2 separate regions of the Homo sapiens genome follow, and region 1 is linked to region 2. Evidence: fine-mapped expression QTL. Tissue or cell type: whole blood. Region 2 holds a variant in brackets; the other region holds the start of a gene. All regions are shown on one strand. Distances are from middle to middle.

Evidence for each region. PIP is the estimated chance that this variant, and not a neighbour inherited with it, causes the effect.
Region 1: BMP2K starts here. The variant in region 2 is fine-mapped to the expression of BMP2K in whole blood (TOPMed, PIP above 0.99). The same link has a PIP of 0.9 or more in blood mononuclear cells.

What each region holds. Positions count from the first base shown.
Region 1 is chr4:78,772,136-78,780,243 of GRCh38, reverse strand. BMP2K (BMP2 inducible kinase) reads right to left here and starts at 3,894. Exons shown (of 16, transcript NM_198892.2): 1 at 3,523-3,894. The coding sequence starts at 3,700. It overlaps BMP2K-DT (BMP2K divergent transcript), which reads left to right and starts at 4,274. Exons shown (of 1, transcript NR_186689.1): 1 at 4,274-6,589. RefSeq lists silencers at 2,990-3,190, 3,552-4,221, 4,312-4,561 and enhancers at 2,765-3,395, 4,028-4,658.
Region 2 is chr4:78,653,263-78,661,370 of GRCh38, reverse strand. All of the region lies in intron 1 of LINC01094 (long intergenic non-protein coding RNA 1094), which reads right to left. Among named protein-coding and RNA genes, the nearest start is that of LINC01094, 11 kb to the right of the region's middle. The variant A/G (reference allele first, on the strand shown) is at 4,274.

The DNA.
Region 1 (8,108 bases), 120 kb before region 2:
TCTCCCAGTCTCAACACCCCATTTTAGGTCCATTTTGTACCAAGGACATTTAGGGAAAACAATGTCCCCTACTCAAAAACCAACTTATTATCAATCAGTATTAAATTCCTCAGACTAGCACCAAAGGCTTGTTATGGTGATGCATGTGGTCAACAAGCCAACCCCAGGTTTTAGTAAAAACTTGGAAGGTTACATTGAATTAATTATATGAGCCTGACAATTTGTCACTGTTTGAAGCTAAAACCAACATACCGCTCTCCCTCATTTCTACAGACCAAAGCTGGGATCTGCTTAGTACAGACTCCTAAACATGTTTTTGAGAAAAAAAACATGAACTGCCTCACTATGTTATCAGTCCTTTAAACTTTGAGGAGGAACTAAAAAGGTGCAAGTTCTATTTTCAAACACTTATGTGCTTGACTACAAAGACATTATGATACAAAGTATATAATGTTTCAGAGAGAAAACTTTAACAGTTTAGTTATAACATACAACCTACCCCTGAGAATCTGCTTTTCAAATTATAGACATAATATGTGCATATACATATCTACCTATAACAAAGGTTGCTCCTCATTAGTTGAGGATACTATATTTACAAATTCATCTACTCACTAACATTTATTTGTATCCCCAAAATCATTACTCATAGCACTTCCACTGTCATTGCAGACATGTGCACAATGGTGAAAAATGTGAGTCTACTGACGTGCACATTCTAGTTTCAGCTTACATAGTGTAAACAAGTGTCCTTTTCATGGTCTATTTAGTGCCATGTTTTTCTCATTTTTGTGCTTGCTATTGGTGATTTCACTGTTGAAAACAGTCCCTAAGCGTAGTGCTAAAGTGCTGTCTAGTGTTCAAGGAGCAAAGACTACAGAGAAAATACAAGTGTGAGATAATCTTCATTGAGGCATGATTTACAGAGCTGTTGGCCATGATTTCAATGTTAATAAATCAACCAAATATATTAAATAAGGTGTATTTAAACTGCAACAGACATAAAACAAGGTTGTATCTTGATCAGTTGACAAAAATGTTGTGAACAGCAGCTTTCAGGAATCTAACACCATAGTAGGAGCAGTGGTTCAGTGTTTGCTAATCCAGTTTTCACGGTGACTTTTTGCAACATAACTAATTATATAAAAATAACAACAGAGAGACGGACGGATTTATTAAAAAGACACTGCAGAGGTCATTATGAGTAAACTACCAATGTTTGCAGGAGCATGGCAAAAACACTTCAGGGCACAGTATCTACTGAGTCTTCCTGGCTCTGTTTAAACAACTTTGGGCCAAAACAAAAAATGCAAAATCTACCAAGTCTGTGCTTTGGTCTATCTTAGCTTCTACCGCTTTGCCTACTCAGTGGTATCCCTCTCCCCAAATCAAGTACTCTAAACTTGAATGCATTTTCACAAGTACATGACCCAATCTTATGATCAGGCAGACCCATCAATTATTGATTAATCACGCTTAAATGCGAACTAGACTTGTGCTTAAACATCTTGTCTAAATTGTGGCACTATTTATTAGGAAGGGAGAGGGGATATTAAGCATCTGAAATAAGACCGGCCAGGATCAAAATTAAACTGATTATACATAGACAATTCCAGTTGTGTGGGTGATGGAGACAGAAAAAATACACAAGGAAAGAAAACCTAGGCCTTGGCCTCCCTTCTAGGAAATTAAAGCTGGGGTGTAGGATGGAGAAGTTTCATCTTCTAAAAGGATTTCTTCAGTCCTTGCTTCCTCCTAGCATTTGATTATTGACTTTTCAAGAGAAATGATACATTTATGGCAAAAGTCAGTGGAACACTCTAACAGTGACATTAGCGCTTGAAATAAACTTTTATTCTTCGTTGTGGTTGAACGAACTCTCCTTTTGAAATTCATCTTTATTACTTTCCAAAATTATTTTTTTATTGAAAATGGCTTGCTTAGGGTAGTGATAAGATATGCTTAGGGTAGTGAGTAATACAAGTTACAAATTCAAAATCTAATTTGTGAAATGTCAGTATTTTTTTTCTATTAAATAAAAGACCCATCTGGGATTTAGTGGAATGAGTGAGTGTAACACTACTCAAGCTACATTTCAATTAGTTACTAAAACAATTCAAAGACAGAATATGGCATTTGAGTGAAGAGCCATGTGCTTTTAAAACCTACAACACAATCTAAACCAATAATTGAAATTCATGTGTAATAAAGAGCTAGAAAACTTTATAGTATAGTAAATCTTTTATAAAGACCACTCACCACATATTCATTCTTCTGAAAAACTAAGGATCCTCCTTCTCCCACCTCTCCAAGTTTCGGCTAAGATCATTATTCTGAGCAATGGTTCACGAAACAATGATATGTACACTTGAATAATTCACGATTTCTTTCTCTTTCAAATATTTTATACAAAAATCTTCAGGTTTTTTCCCTTGTGCTAATTTACTGTTGTGTATAGCATTTCAAAAAATACAAGCGGAATCTCAGTCTACTGTTTTCAAACCACATCAACGTCTAACGCTCGGAGAACTGAATCCACTCTTCGATTTTTTTTATCTTAACCATAGAACTTAAAAGGGCCATTTATCAACAAAAAGTATTTCTTTTAAAGTGTTTATTTTGTAGTATCATTTTGCAACTAAAAACTCAAAGGCCAATGAAGCATGCAGCACACAGGGCAAGTATTTTCTACAAGGCAATTATGCCAGAAATACAAAACTAAATTCTAAGTTCTTCTTTTAAAATGGAGTAAACTTTTTTTGTAAGTAGACTTCTACCTGCCGTCATAACCTGTTCCAGATCATGAAGGACCGACCACAAAACCTCGTTAAGTGAAAGTTAACCTGCTTTTATATCACCTTTTAAACTACTATCAAAGAGACATACTGGGAGGGCATGAATAGCACCTTGTCCAACAGAGAAGATTCTAAATAACAAAGATAAATGGGCTCCAAGTTTACCTGCTCCTCAGTGCAACCTACTAACTGAATTTAGAGCAAAGGATCACCTCCAACACGCACACATGCACACAAATACATTGTTTTTCAACAGATGACTGAGCTGCAGCAAAGCCCAGCTTGACACCAGGGGCTGCAGGGTCCTATGCCCTGCAGCGCGGGTGGAGGCTTAGATGAAAAGGCCAACGCATGACACCCGTCTGAGCCACAGCTGGCAGAACGGAGCTTCAACCCTGTTCGATCTGACCCTCTAATGAGTCACTGGCCCAATCGTAACACCAACCCACTTCCTAGCCCGTCTACTACCTATTTTCTCGCGTCAAAAAGCACAGAAAATGATTTAAACTAGGCATGAGAGAACTGTGCACCGGCCGGGGCAGCCAGCGGCAAGAAAAGCCAGCTTAAGAGAGAAAGCCCGAGCCACTCTTTAGGAGCCCCCGCTGGCCCGGCAGCAGAGGAAGAATGGGGTATAAGAGTCAGTCCGGAGGGCGAGGACCCGGAGAAGCCGCCGCCACACCCCAACCCTCCCTCACCTGCCTGTCCGAGCCTCCCCGGGCGCCCGTACCTTCGGCCAGCGACTCTTCCAGGGTGACCTGGTGGCGGCCGACCGCGAACACCCGGACCCCCACGGACGAGCCGCCGGAGCCGCAGCCGGCCCCGGCCCCGGCCCCGCCAGCCCCGCCACCCGCCGCTCCGCCGCCGCTGCCGCCCTCCGACTTGGGCATCCGAGAGAACTTCTTCATGGTCCCGCCGGCGAGCTGGAGGGCGCAGGGAGCGTGCAAGGGCAAGTCCCCGGCCCGGCGCGCAGCCGGGCGTCCGCGAGGGGTCGCCGCCCCTGGCCCGTCCGAGCGTGCTGCGGCCCGCCAAGCCTCACATTCCGCGCTCCCCAAGCGCACAGCCTGGGCCCCGCCGCCCGCTCCGCGGCTCCGCTGCAGCTGCCCGGCTCCCGCAGAGGGCGGTGGGGAGGGCGGGGACGGGGCGGGGCGCGAGGGGGCGGGTCCGAATCCAGGGGCGACGCCGCCGCCTCCGCCAGTGCCCCGGGCGTCCCGCCGCCTCACTAAGCGCCTGGAGCGCGAGCCGGGGTAGAGGAAGAGAGCGAAAGAGGCTGGGCGGCCGGCCCCTCCAGGGAGTGGGCTAGACGTCTCAGGCCACAAACCCGCAGGACCGCAGCCCGTCGCGCCGCCGCCGCCCCGGCCGAACCCGCGCCGCCCGCCACTCGTGGCCGTTGGCGGGGGGGGGGGGGGGGCGCTGCTGCCAACCGCTCACTGAGGCCGGGCGACCCGCGCAGGCGCGCTGCCCGCGCCGCCGGAAGTGACGGTTCCGGCTCTTGTCACGTGGAGGGGGACCAAGGGAGGTGATTGTGGGGGTTGGGGACTAGGGCAAAGTCGGGGGTCCCGGGTCCGGGGTTGCGCCGGGAGGGTACTGGCCAGGCCCGACTTCAAGCAGGGAGGTGGCCCGGGACTGGCTCCCGCGCTGGTCACGCACCGGGGTCCGTCATCTCGACCGGGAGTCGCTGTGCCACTCTAGGGGCTTAAAAATGCCGCCAACAACTTTACCCCTGCTGAGGAACTTCTCGCTTCGTTTCTTAGCCAGTTTTCCAGGCCTTCTCCCTTGAGAGTCTCCTTCCGCTCGCCCACCCTGAGCGTAGGAGGTGGGAGCAGGACGGAACTGGAGTGGATTCCAGTAACTGGACTTCTAAACCGGCTCGGTGTCGTCGCGCTCTGTAGCGGACGCTTGTGCTGGGAAGCGTTTTGCAGTTTATAAATTACTTAGGAGTACTTTAAACATCTCACGCCTGCTGTACCACAGCCATGTGGGGGTATTCAGAACAGGTATTAAGGTCGTTTTGCAGACCATTCATCACTCTTGGCTAAAAGAACTTAACGGAGTCGCCCAAGGTCACACAGCTGGCTCGTGGTAATTGGGGACCATTCTTTGATTCATAATTTTGTGCTTTTGGCCACCCTGAAAAAGTAAGGTCAGATCGTTGAAAAACGGGCAGATTTAAGGCTGTTTGGAAGCAAAAGCGACCACTGCGTTCCCCTCAAATCAAAGAGATTTGCACCCCCTACCAAAAAAAAAAAAAAAAAAAAAAGCCCTGTTGTATCAATTTCATAAACTGCAGGAGTCTCCCGACTGCAGGGTGAAGCAACAAAATAAATATGGGTGTAAAACATTCAGGAGTGGTAGGGAATGGCAAACTGTAGAGCCTGTGTAAAGAGAGCAGCCAATTCTCAGCTCCAGCCTACTTTTCCACAAAAGAAGATAGGCACACACACTGTGCCCAGAGGTTCCAGTTTCTTAAGAGAACCAAAAACCTGGAACTGTTTTCTAATGTGGCATTTCCCTAATTTTTAAAATATAGATCAAATAAATTGTATCTGCAGGACTCCAGTATGCACCTTCTATGAAAGTAGATGAATGTGGTTCTATCCCCACCCCTATTTCTTTATTCTTTTTAATGAGATAACGGGTAGAAACATTAGAAAATGTGCTTAGACAAAAACTTTGAACTTAAAATCCTTGTTCTTTCTTCCCTGCTATTTGAAGAGAAGCTATTTCTGCCAACACTAAAATAGTGCTCTGGATTTAGGCATTTCTGCTACATAACCCACTAAACTAAAATTCTTCATCCAGAGACCTGACGTTTAAAGTAGATTCCAGCTTAGTGGAAGTGAGATTATATGTCAGATGATTGATGTGGTGTGGCAGTTGGGGATTTCCATTTAGAAACAAGCTGACCACTTTCGTTGCTGTGGGGCTTCATTGTGGAGTCTCATTCCTAAATTTGAATTGTTTTTTAAGCAGAATAATGGAAAGATTAAGTCATTTCATGCAATTCAAAACTGGAGTCAGACAAACATACAAAGTTTGGGCCTGATATAACTTCACCTGATCACAACAAGCCTGCTATAATAAGTTTCAAAGTTAGTTTACGAGGATCACTTGAGGCCAGGAGTTCAAAACCAGCATGGTCAACATAACAAGACCTCATCTCTTTAAAAAAAAAAAAAAAAAAAATTAAAAATTAGCCAGGTATGGTGGTGGTGCACCTGTAATCCCAGCTACTCAGGAGGCTGAGGCAGGAGGATCGCTTGAACCAAGGAGTTCAAGGCTGCAGTGCGCTATGATGGCACTGGTGCACTCCAGGCTGGGTGTCTCTTAAAAACAAACAAAAGTTTGACCAGTCAAAGTGGCTTGCACCTATAATCCCAGCACTTTGGGAAGCCGAGGTGGGTGGATTGCTTGAACTCAGGAGTTCAAGACCAACCTGGGCAATATGGTGAGACCTTCCATCTCTATCAAAAATACAAAAATTAGCTGGGCTTGGTGGGGTGGCGCAGGCCTGTGGTCCCTGCTACTTGGGAAGCTGAGGTGCGTGGATCACTGGAGCCAAGGAAGTCGAGGCTGCAGTGAGCCATGATAGCATCAGCTGCACTCCAGCCTGGACAACAGAGGAAGACACTGTCTCTAAGTAAATAAATAAGTCAATTTACAATTAATGTGGTAAAGATTACTTGTATGTACCAATGTAACTTGACTTTTGATATTGAAATGTATAATTATAATAAATGTATAATTAAATGTGTAATAATGTATAGACCCCCTCTGAAAGACGAGGGTAACACCAAGCAATATGTTCTTTGATTTTTCTCACCAAGCATGTGACAAAATTTGGATATCCTCCCATCTTTATAGTACGTTAACGTCACAATATTCTGTAACACTCAATAACAAACATATAACTTAAAAATGCAAAGACTACTAACAATCAAAAACATTAGAAAGGTGTGGTAGTGCACACCTATGGTCCCAGCTACTCAAGAGGCTTAGGCAGGAGGATCGTTTGAGCCCAGGAGGTTGAGACTGCAGTGAGCTGTGATCACACCACTGCACTCCAGCTTGGGTGACAGAGCAAGACCCTCCCAAAAAAAAGCAAAAATGTTGTAGAGTATTTCCCCTCTTATCCAGGAAGGATACATTCCAAGACTCCCAGTAAATGCCTGAAAGTGAGGATAGTAACCAAACCATCTATATATAATGTTTTTTCCTATATATACATACCTTTGATAAGGTTCAGGGTTTAAGTTAGGTACAGTAAGAGGTTAACAACAATAATAAATTAGAACAATTATAACAATTTCGTGGATGGAAGATTCATTTTTACTGTAGATCTTAGCAACCTCAGCATATGATTTTTTTTAATTAAGTTGAGAACTTCACCTTTTCATTTAAGGAAAGCACTTTATGGCTTCTCCTTGGCATATTCGAATTGCTAGCATCATTATGCTTGCACTTGGAGCCATTAGTAAGTAAAATAAGATTCCTTGAACACAAGCACTGTGACAGTGGATCTGATAACTGGGAAGGCTACTAAGTGACAGGCAGAGAGTATAGACAGATATACTGGGCAAAGGGATGATTCACCTACCAGTCGGGCTACCCAGAACAGCGTGCAATTTAAAATTTACCAATTCATTTTTCTGGAATTTTCCATTTAATATTTTCAGACCATTGTTGACCACAGGTAACTGAAACTGAGGAAAGCGAAACTGTGGGGATGGGGGATTACTATATTACTAATAACAAGAAGGCCAAACATTTACAAACACTTTTATTACCAAAAGATATTAACATCTATTGTTAAATCATATTCTTCTAGCAAATTTGTGAAATAAGAATGTGTAACCTGAAATCAATTTTTAGGCAGAAATTGAGATATTAAGGGCAGACTGTAACCAGCAGAAAAACTATATTGAAATTTCTAGTCTTTCAGATTTCTTTGAGAAAATCTTATAGCCATATATTAATTTCTCACTCCTGCACCTTAAATTTATTTACTGGCTTATAGTAGATTAAGTATTGTAAAGACTTTCATTTTAATGACTCATGCAATTCTTGGACATAAAATACTCTTCATGAGTTAAAAACCTTTGTAATGCACTAGCTAGTGTTTAGAACAAACTAAAATGCTATGATGTGATCTGAAATTTCAAGAGGTACAAATACAGAAGTCAAATCCCAGACCCCAAAGCAAACTTTTCTATCAACATACAATATTAAACATGTAGTATCTTTCCTAATTAATATTAGACTATTAAAATGTGTGCTTATGATTTTAAGAGGTTCCATACATTTTAACCCTTAGCA
Region 2 (8,108 bases):
GCACCTTGCCACTTTTTTCTGTTTTAATATTTGTCTACCCCAAGAGGAGCTGGGCAGAATTCAAAAAATATTTGTCATCTGGGAACAGAAATAAACAAACAGGTCATATGAGAGGTCTTATTTTTTCAGATGCTCTACTGATTATCTCACTTTGTTGACTGATTAATGCCATTCCCCTTGAATAAGTCATTTATATTATCTCAGTTTCTATTCTTATGCTTCCTAAAGTTGACATTGCTAGGATGAGTAAATTCTTATAATAGGTGGGGATTTAGTGAGCACTGATATATTTGACTAAAAAATTTCTTTTATAAAGTGTTTTAAAAATAATTTAAAATTTCAAAAGCTCCTTAGGACATTACCTAGCATTTTAAGGAAAGCCTAGGACACTGATTTTCATTCCCTTCGGAGTTCTTCCAGCTTTAAAATTCTATGAATTTATGAATAGAATAGTTCCCCCTTATCCTTGAAGGATACGTTCCAAGACTTAGTAGATGCCTGAAACTGTGCATAGTACTGAACCCTAGACTGTCTATACTATGTTTTTTCAATCTGATAATCTAGATGGTTGCATCTACAGTGCAGATAACTGGACCAAAAGATGATTCACCTTTGGAAGGGACTGAGCGGAATGCTGTGAGATTTCATCACACTACTCAGAATGGTGCACAATTTAAAACTTATGAGTTGTTAATTTCCAAAATTTTCCCTTAAACATCTTCAGATCGTGGTTGACTGCAGGTAGCTGAAATTATGGAAAGCAAAACCACGGATAAGGGGGGAACTACTGTATATACTTCCTAAGTCTCAGTATGAGATTCTGAATTTGTTTTACAAAGGTTAAATAAATCAGTTAAATATTGACTAGGTAATGCAAATCTATGCAAAAAGCAAAATAATAGTATAATTCTGTGATTATGTAATAATACCTTACACACAATAGGTACTAAAAAACTATTTCTTGATTCTTACCAACTTTCACATTTTCGCATACCAGTTTTCTAACTGTGGAAACTCTATGCAGTAGGATTTTCAAATAGGTGAGTCATTTTATAGCAATATATTTTATAGCTTATACAACTGTAATATGTTTGGAAGGAAATTTATTCCTTTAGTAGGACGAGATCTGTCATTCCTATCATCCTTCACAGGGTCTTCTTGTTTCACTTTATGTGTGTATGGCATTATAAAGGCTTACTGGAGTGCTATTTTTTTCTTCCATTACACAGAAGTCAGATATTAGAAGTGCAAAATCCATAATATTCCTTCCCAGGAATATCCCAAACCAGACAAATAAACAGAAAACCAAAACGCTTTTGCCTTGTTTGACCTTAAGTAATGCTAGTGGGGTTCAACATCTTCTCTAAGGTTCAGGCCCTTGTCTAGTTGGATACAGACCAGGTAATGTCCTCTTTGCTCCAATAAGAGAAAAAGGCATGCTTATTCCTCCTGGTTTTACCACCATTCTCTGTATCTTTCTTAACAATCCCTGCCAATTTGCCCTGTCAATCACCTTCTAAAGCTTGCTGCCTGGTTCACATTTGTGACTCCTGACTTCCAGTAACCTACTGAGTCTACCAGGTACATTCAGACTGGTCTCCCCCTGGACACCCATCATCATCATCACAGTAATAATACCTCCCACCTATTACTATGTGCCAGGTAGGCAGCATGCATAATGTGCACTATCTCAATTAAACCTTACAACAACCCTATGAGGCTAATACTGTTATTCATTGCTTCAGGTTACTAAGAAAGCACATAGCAAATAAGTGGTAGAGGCAGGACTTGAACCCAGGAAGTCTCCCAAATACTATTCTCCATCTCCTCTCAACTCTTGCTCAAATGGAGAACTGAATAGGAGCCACTTGGGTAACAGCCAAGCTCCCTAACCATATGGCATTGTTCCCATCTGTGGAAGGGCATAGGTCCAGCTGCATAGAATGATGTTGCCTTCTGACAGTCTTCTCTTAACTATCTTAGTGGCAAGAGGCTTTATTCATTTTCTTTGTACTCAAAATTAGCTTTTACTTTTTATCCACACACAACGCCACAGATAGCCCAGATTGAATTCATTATGGGCTATCATGTCCCCTGTCATTTGTTTATAAGAAGAGCTCTGGCCTGGCCTTAGCAACTTTTAGGTGAAGCCATCTTAAAAAAAGTCAAGAGCCACAGAAATAGAGTTCCAAAAATGACAAACATTGCAAGCATTCATTTTATACCCACACAATCTTTATTTTCCAATTTCTGTTAGTTGAAAACAAGAACAGTAAGAGAGCTCAGAAGAGAGTGGATCTTTAGAAATACTTCCAACTATCTATAGCCAAAAGCCAAACATACTCCTACATCCTTATTTCATGCAAACTAGATAATATAAAAAAGACTTGGAAAATGCTTTATAGCTGTGTGTAAGCTAAAAAAGCTACATAATCACACACAAATGAATGGGAGATATGAGTAGCAAATACAGGGCCTATGTTCTTTACCATAGAAATCGAAAGGATAAAAGACTAAAGTGTGGATTCAATTAAGAACTTAGTGGTGCCTTTTAAGAGGTGGCATTTTCCAGTATGTATCTCAGGCAGTCTAAAGAGTGATACCACAGAGCAAATGAAAGTCTCTAAGGGGAACTATTCTGTCTTGTGGTGAAAGTCAAGGCAAGGTGAGAGATAGAAGTAGATTTGTGGGCCAGGTGCAGTGGCTCACGCCTGTAATCCCAGCACTCTGGGAGGCCAAGGCGGGCAGATCACCTGAGGTCAGGAGTTCGAGACCAGCCTGGCCAACATGGTGAAACCACGTCTCTACTAAAAATACAGGAATTAGCTGGGCATGGTGGCAGGCACCTGTAATCCCAGCTACTCGGGAGGCTGAGGCAGGATAATCACTTGAACCCAGGAGGCGGAGGTTGCAGTGAGCCGAGATGGTGCCATTGCACTCTAGCCTGGGGTACAAGAGCAAGATTTCATCTCAAAAAAAAAAAAAAAAAAAAAAGTAGATTTATGGTTGCCAGGGTTCAGGTCAGAAATATTGTAAAGTAAGAGGGACCTTCTCACTTGATGAGAGCAAAAGTCTTAGCTTGGTAGGAAAGGAACTATCTAGCTCCTGTCTGAGTGACAGAAACAGGAAGGAAGAGTGAGCAATACCCCTCTCTGTATTGCATTTGGCCTGTTAGGAAACCACGAGATGGGGCATATGATAAACCCAGTCTGCTCCTGTCTCAGTGTTCTCCTCTGGAATCTTGAACCACACAGGAGTTTTCTCAAATGAGCAGACTGTCTGATTCTGGAAACTGATCACCCACCCAAGTACGAGGTTCCAGATGGCAGGGATCTGGTCTGTTTTGTACACAGCTGTATTGTGAGGACCTGGGACATAGTAGGTTCTCAGTGAATATTTATTGAATGAACATTCAAATGCACACGCCACAGAGCCCAATAATTTGAGAGTAGCCCAGAAATATTTGGGACTTGTTTTGCGCTTCACCTAAACAATGATGGCAAAACAAGAAAAAGGAGGAGGAGAAGGAGGAGGATGAGAAGGAGGAAGAGGTCATTGGTCATCTGCTGAGTTATTTTGTTCATATCCAGTTTGTGTTTGTGGCTTCCTTGCAGAAAAGATGCCAGAAGATTGTAAAGGAATAATTGTGTGTTTCTGTGTATGTGTGTGCATGACTATTCTTATTGATGTATGTATATCAAATCATGTTGCTATATCTATGTCTGTGGATGACTTTAATTAACCTTTTTTCAACCCTGCTGAAATGAAAGACTTTTCTAATTCTCCTGATTTAGAAGTAGTTATTTAGAATTATAAGAAGTATGATTAGCTCACAAACGAAAGAGCCCATCTTTGCTAATAATAGTGCTAATAAGAGAAAGGTAATCTGGTAAGGCCAATCCTCTACTCCAGAAATCTCAGGACATCTAAAATTGGGAGTTGGTGGCCATGTAAACAAATTCAAATTACCTTCCAGCAAAAACCTCAAACTACTTGTTTGAGATGGTTTTGGCTGGAAGACGTGAATCCAGATCAAAATCAAAAGCCACAGAAATACTGAAATAGTTGAAACAGAGACACAGTCATTACAGGAAGCTTATGAAGGTTCAAAGGAGGTTAAAAAAAGAAAAAGAAAGAAAAGGAAGAGCTGCAGCAAGAAACGTTTGTGGCATTCATTGCCCATCCCTACTGGAAATGTTGACGATATCCTTTGAAGAGGAAGAGGAAGGAGTTCGAGGTGCAAAACAGGCAGCCTAGACAGTGACAAAACAGG[A/G]AACAGGAGTGCTGATGAAACTGAACTGTGAATTGGGAAGACAGCAACGCATTAAAGCCACAGGGCTGTGAAAGACACTCGAAAAGGACAATGTAAAAGTGGCGAGGGACTCAGAATGAACTATGGATTAAATAAGCATTGACAAATAGATAACGAAGTCTAAATTTTCTTATTGAAATGACCTAAAAACAAACTTAGTCATATTATTATCATTCTAGGAGTATTCTATTGTACTAGAATTGCATTGAATCAAATACTGTTTGAAATAAATGGATAAATTTATTTCTGTTGCTAACATATAGAGATATCTCATAATGGTGTTGGTTAATAGTAATAGGTAACAATTAACACAATGCCCACAATACTTTATAGGTAACATCATTTAATCCTGACAAATATTTTTTTGCTTGTTTTTTTGAGACAGGGTCTCCCTTTGTCACCCAGGCTGGAGTGCAGTAACCTGATCATGGCTCACTGCAGCCTTGATTTTCCAGGCTCAAGAGATCCTCCTGCTTCAGCCTCCTGAGTAGCTCGGACTACATGCATGCCCCACCACACTTGCCTAGTTTTTTTTTTTTATTTTTAGTAGAAACAGGGTCCCACTATGTTGCCCAGACTGGTCTCTAACTCCTGAGCTCAAGTGATCCTCCCGAAGTGCTGGAATTACAGGCATGAACCACTGCATCTGGCCAAAAAATCTTAAAAGGTATATGATATTAACACTTTCAATTTATAGATGAAGTCTCTGAGGTTGTATGATTTGTTAAGGCTCAAGTTACGGGCCAATGTAGAATAGTTTATGACAATAGCTTCCCAGTCTTGACTCCAGAGCCTGGGTTCTCTGTGCCATTTGATCAATACATGACATGACATTCTACTGAGCACACCTCTGGCTCATTTCCATTTCCATTTGCTCTGTTTACCAGAATTGTTGCTATGTCCCTTTGCCAACCTTTGAAGAGAGAGGTAATGGGCAGCAAAATGCCCAGAATTAAGGAACAACCCAAGGAAGATGAAAGAATCCGAGATAATAAGGCCCAACGTCAAGTCAGTTATTACAGATTGTAAAATTCAAGTCCCTCATTAGAGTGAGTAAATTTTTGACCTCTAATTAAAAGTCTTGCTAAAAGAATTTTAGCAGGTTAGTGACAAAATCCTTGGACTAAGAAGAGAATGACCAGTAAGTTATTTTATGTACACTTATTTAATAATATAGCATTACTTTTTGAAGATTACTGTGTTAAGAGTCTAATGTAACAGCCTTATTATAACTTAGAATATTGATTTGAACATCAGCATAAAATAAGGCACCCCTGAATTTTTCCCAACCAAGAAAAATGTCCTTGTACTGTGGCCACAGGACGTGTATCTTTCCCTCCCTCCCTCCCTCCCTCCGTTCCTTCCTTCCTTCCCGTCTTTCTTTTCTTTTCTTTCTTTCTTTTTTTTTTTTTGGAATCTTTCTCTGTCACCCAGGCTGGAGTGCAGTGGCATGATCTTGGCTCACTGCAACCTCCGCCTCCTGGGTTCCAGCAATTCTCGTGACTCAGCCTCCCAAGTAGCTGGGATTACAGGCGCCCACCAATATGCCCAGCTAATTTTTGTATTTTTAGTAGAGACAGGGTTTCACTATGTTGCCCAGGCTGGTCTTGAACTCCTGGCCCCAGGTGATCCATCCACCTCAGCCTTCCAGAGTGCCGAGATAACAGGCGTGAGCCACCGCGCTCGGCCAGCATGTGTATCTTTCTAACGTAACTTACACTCTTGACACAGTAATCTTCAAAAAGACTGTCAGTTCTTTTGGCATTATTATTGCTATTTGACATTACTGTTATTATTCATATAATAACAATAACTTGGTGTGGTTAAGTTCTTTGTCTAAGGTCACATAACATAGTAGATATTTCAAATTTCTCCAAAATATTTCACCCAAAATTCATACTGTTTTCCAGTAAGGTCCAAATTGGATTAAATTTAAGTTTATGTCACTTTAATGCAGTTGTTTTTAAAGAAATAAAAACTTTGCATCAGAATCCAGAGCATATGTTTCTCATTTGGCTGCCATTCCTGCTTTGTGGCATGCAGAGTTCACTTCCCCAATCAGGACAGTTTTGGATGGCTGCTGCTCTTTCATAACCCAGCTGGTTTGTAATCCTCGTTAGGTTAGGGAATGAGCCCCTCAGACACTATTGCTCAGAATTCTTTAAAGTCTTAAGGCAGATTCTCTCTGGGTGCAGTAGCTGACACCCATGATGTGCTCTAACACTTGGGACAGTGGGGTGGAAGGATCACTTGAGCCCAGGAGTTTGAGACCAGCCTGGGAAACATAATCAGACCCCATCTCTAAAAAATAAAGAATAAAAAATTAGCTGGGCATAGTGGTATGCACCAGTAATTCCTGGGGGTCAGGGGTCAGGGGCTGAGGCTGAGGCAGGAAGATCTCTTTAGCCCACGAAGTCAAGTCTGCAGTGAGCTACAATCACACTGGTGCACTCTATCTAGCCTAGATGACAGAGTAAGACCCTGTCACACACACAAAAGGCAAACTCTAAATGAACAGAAAGACCTACATATACTTATATGGATGAAGGCAACACAGAACACCAAGAGGCTTCCACTCAGAGCACAATCATGTTGTTGGGAATTTGAGGGCAGATGTAGAAAGATACACATGCTGTGACCACAGTGCAAGGACACTTTTCTTTGTTGGTAAAAATTCAGGGATGCCTTATTTTATGCTGACGCTCAAATCAATATGCTTACTGGTAAATGCTCCTGGGCTAAGGCTGTTAGAAGATGGAACGCTGCTGTTAGCTTGCTTCCATACAGAATGGATTTCTAGACTTCCATAATTTTATTTGATTTGGATTAATGGGGCTTGAATATATTCATGTGATAAAACAACTGAAAATCATGTTGCTCTTTGTAGGATAAAATGAAATATAAATAGATTGTTAAAAAAATCCAGTTTATAATTTTGTTTTGAATCATATACTATTGTATACTATTATAGGAGAATGATAATATTCTTAAAACCAAAGGAATATGTAAAAGGTATGGAGAAAAATGTGTAATTGAGAACATTCTATCCATTAACATCTTTTTTCTGTAATATTTTGTGTGGAAAAGATAGCTAGTTGCCTAACCTTGATTCTTATCCCAGCAGAATAGCTCTCAAGACAAAAACTACATTTCCTAGTCACCCCTGTGGCTAACTGTGGCCACGTGACTAATCTCTGTCAAAGATATGAAAGCATAATTCCTAGATAAAACGTTTAGAAGGGCTACTTAACACAATTTTACTCAGCTGGGGGTGATACTTTCTGCATCTCCTTCTTATTTTGGCTTGCAATGCAGGTGTGATAACTGGAGCTTCAGCAGCCCAGAGATGACCTTAATAATAAAAGCCATGTGTTAAGATAATAGAGAAAAGAGCCTGGGGGTCCCAGATGATATTATGGAGTGGCCATAGCTAGATAGTTTCTCTTCCAACTCCTTTTATCTGAGAAAAGAAACCCCCAAATTCCAGCTTGCTTTAGGCTTTGGTAGTTTGCTTTTTTTTTTTTTTTAAATGTGCAGCAAAACCTAATCCTGATATATTAGCAATAAAATCCTCTACTCCCAGTCCTAGCATTGAATTTCAGAACCCAAACACCTAAAACTACTGATAATCAGTATAAGAGTATAATTTGAGAACCATGAGTTTGGTTCTTGTCTGTGGATTTTCACTGAAAAAATTATAAAAATAATTATTGAAACTAACTTCTATTTTTATCGTTGTAAGTCTTGCTTTCACTGAAAAAAAGAAAAGAATAGGTAAGTGGCACTGGATCTCATT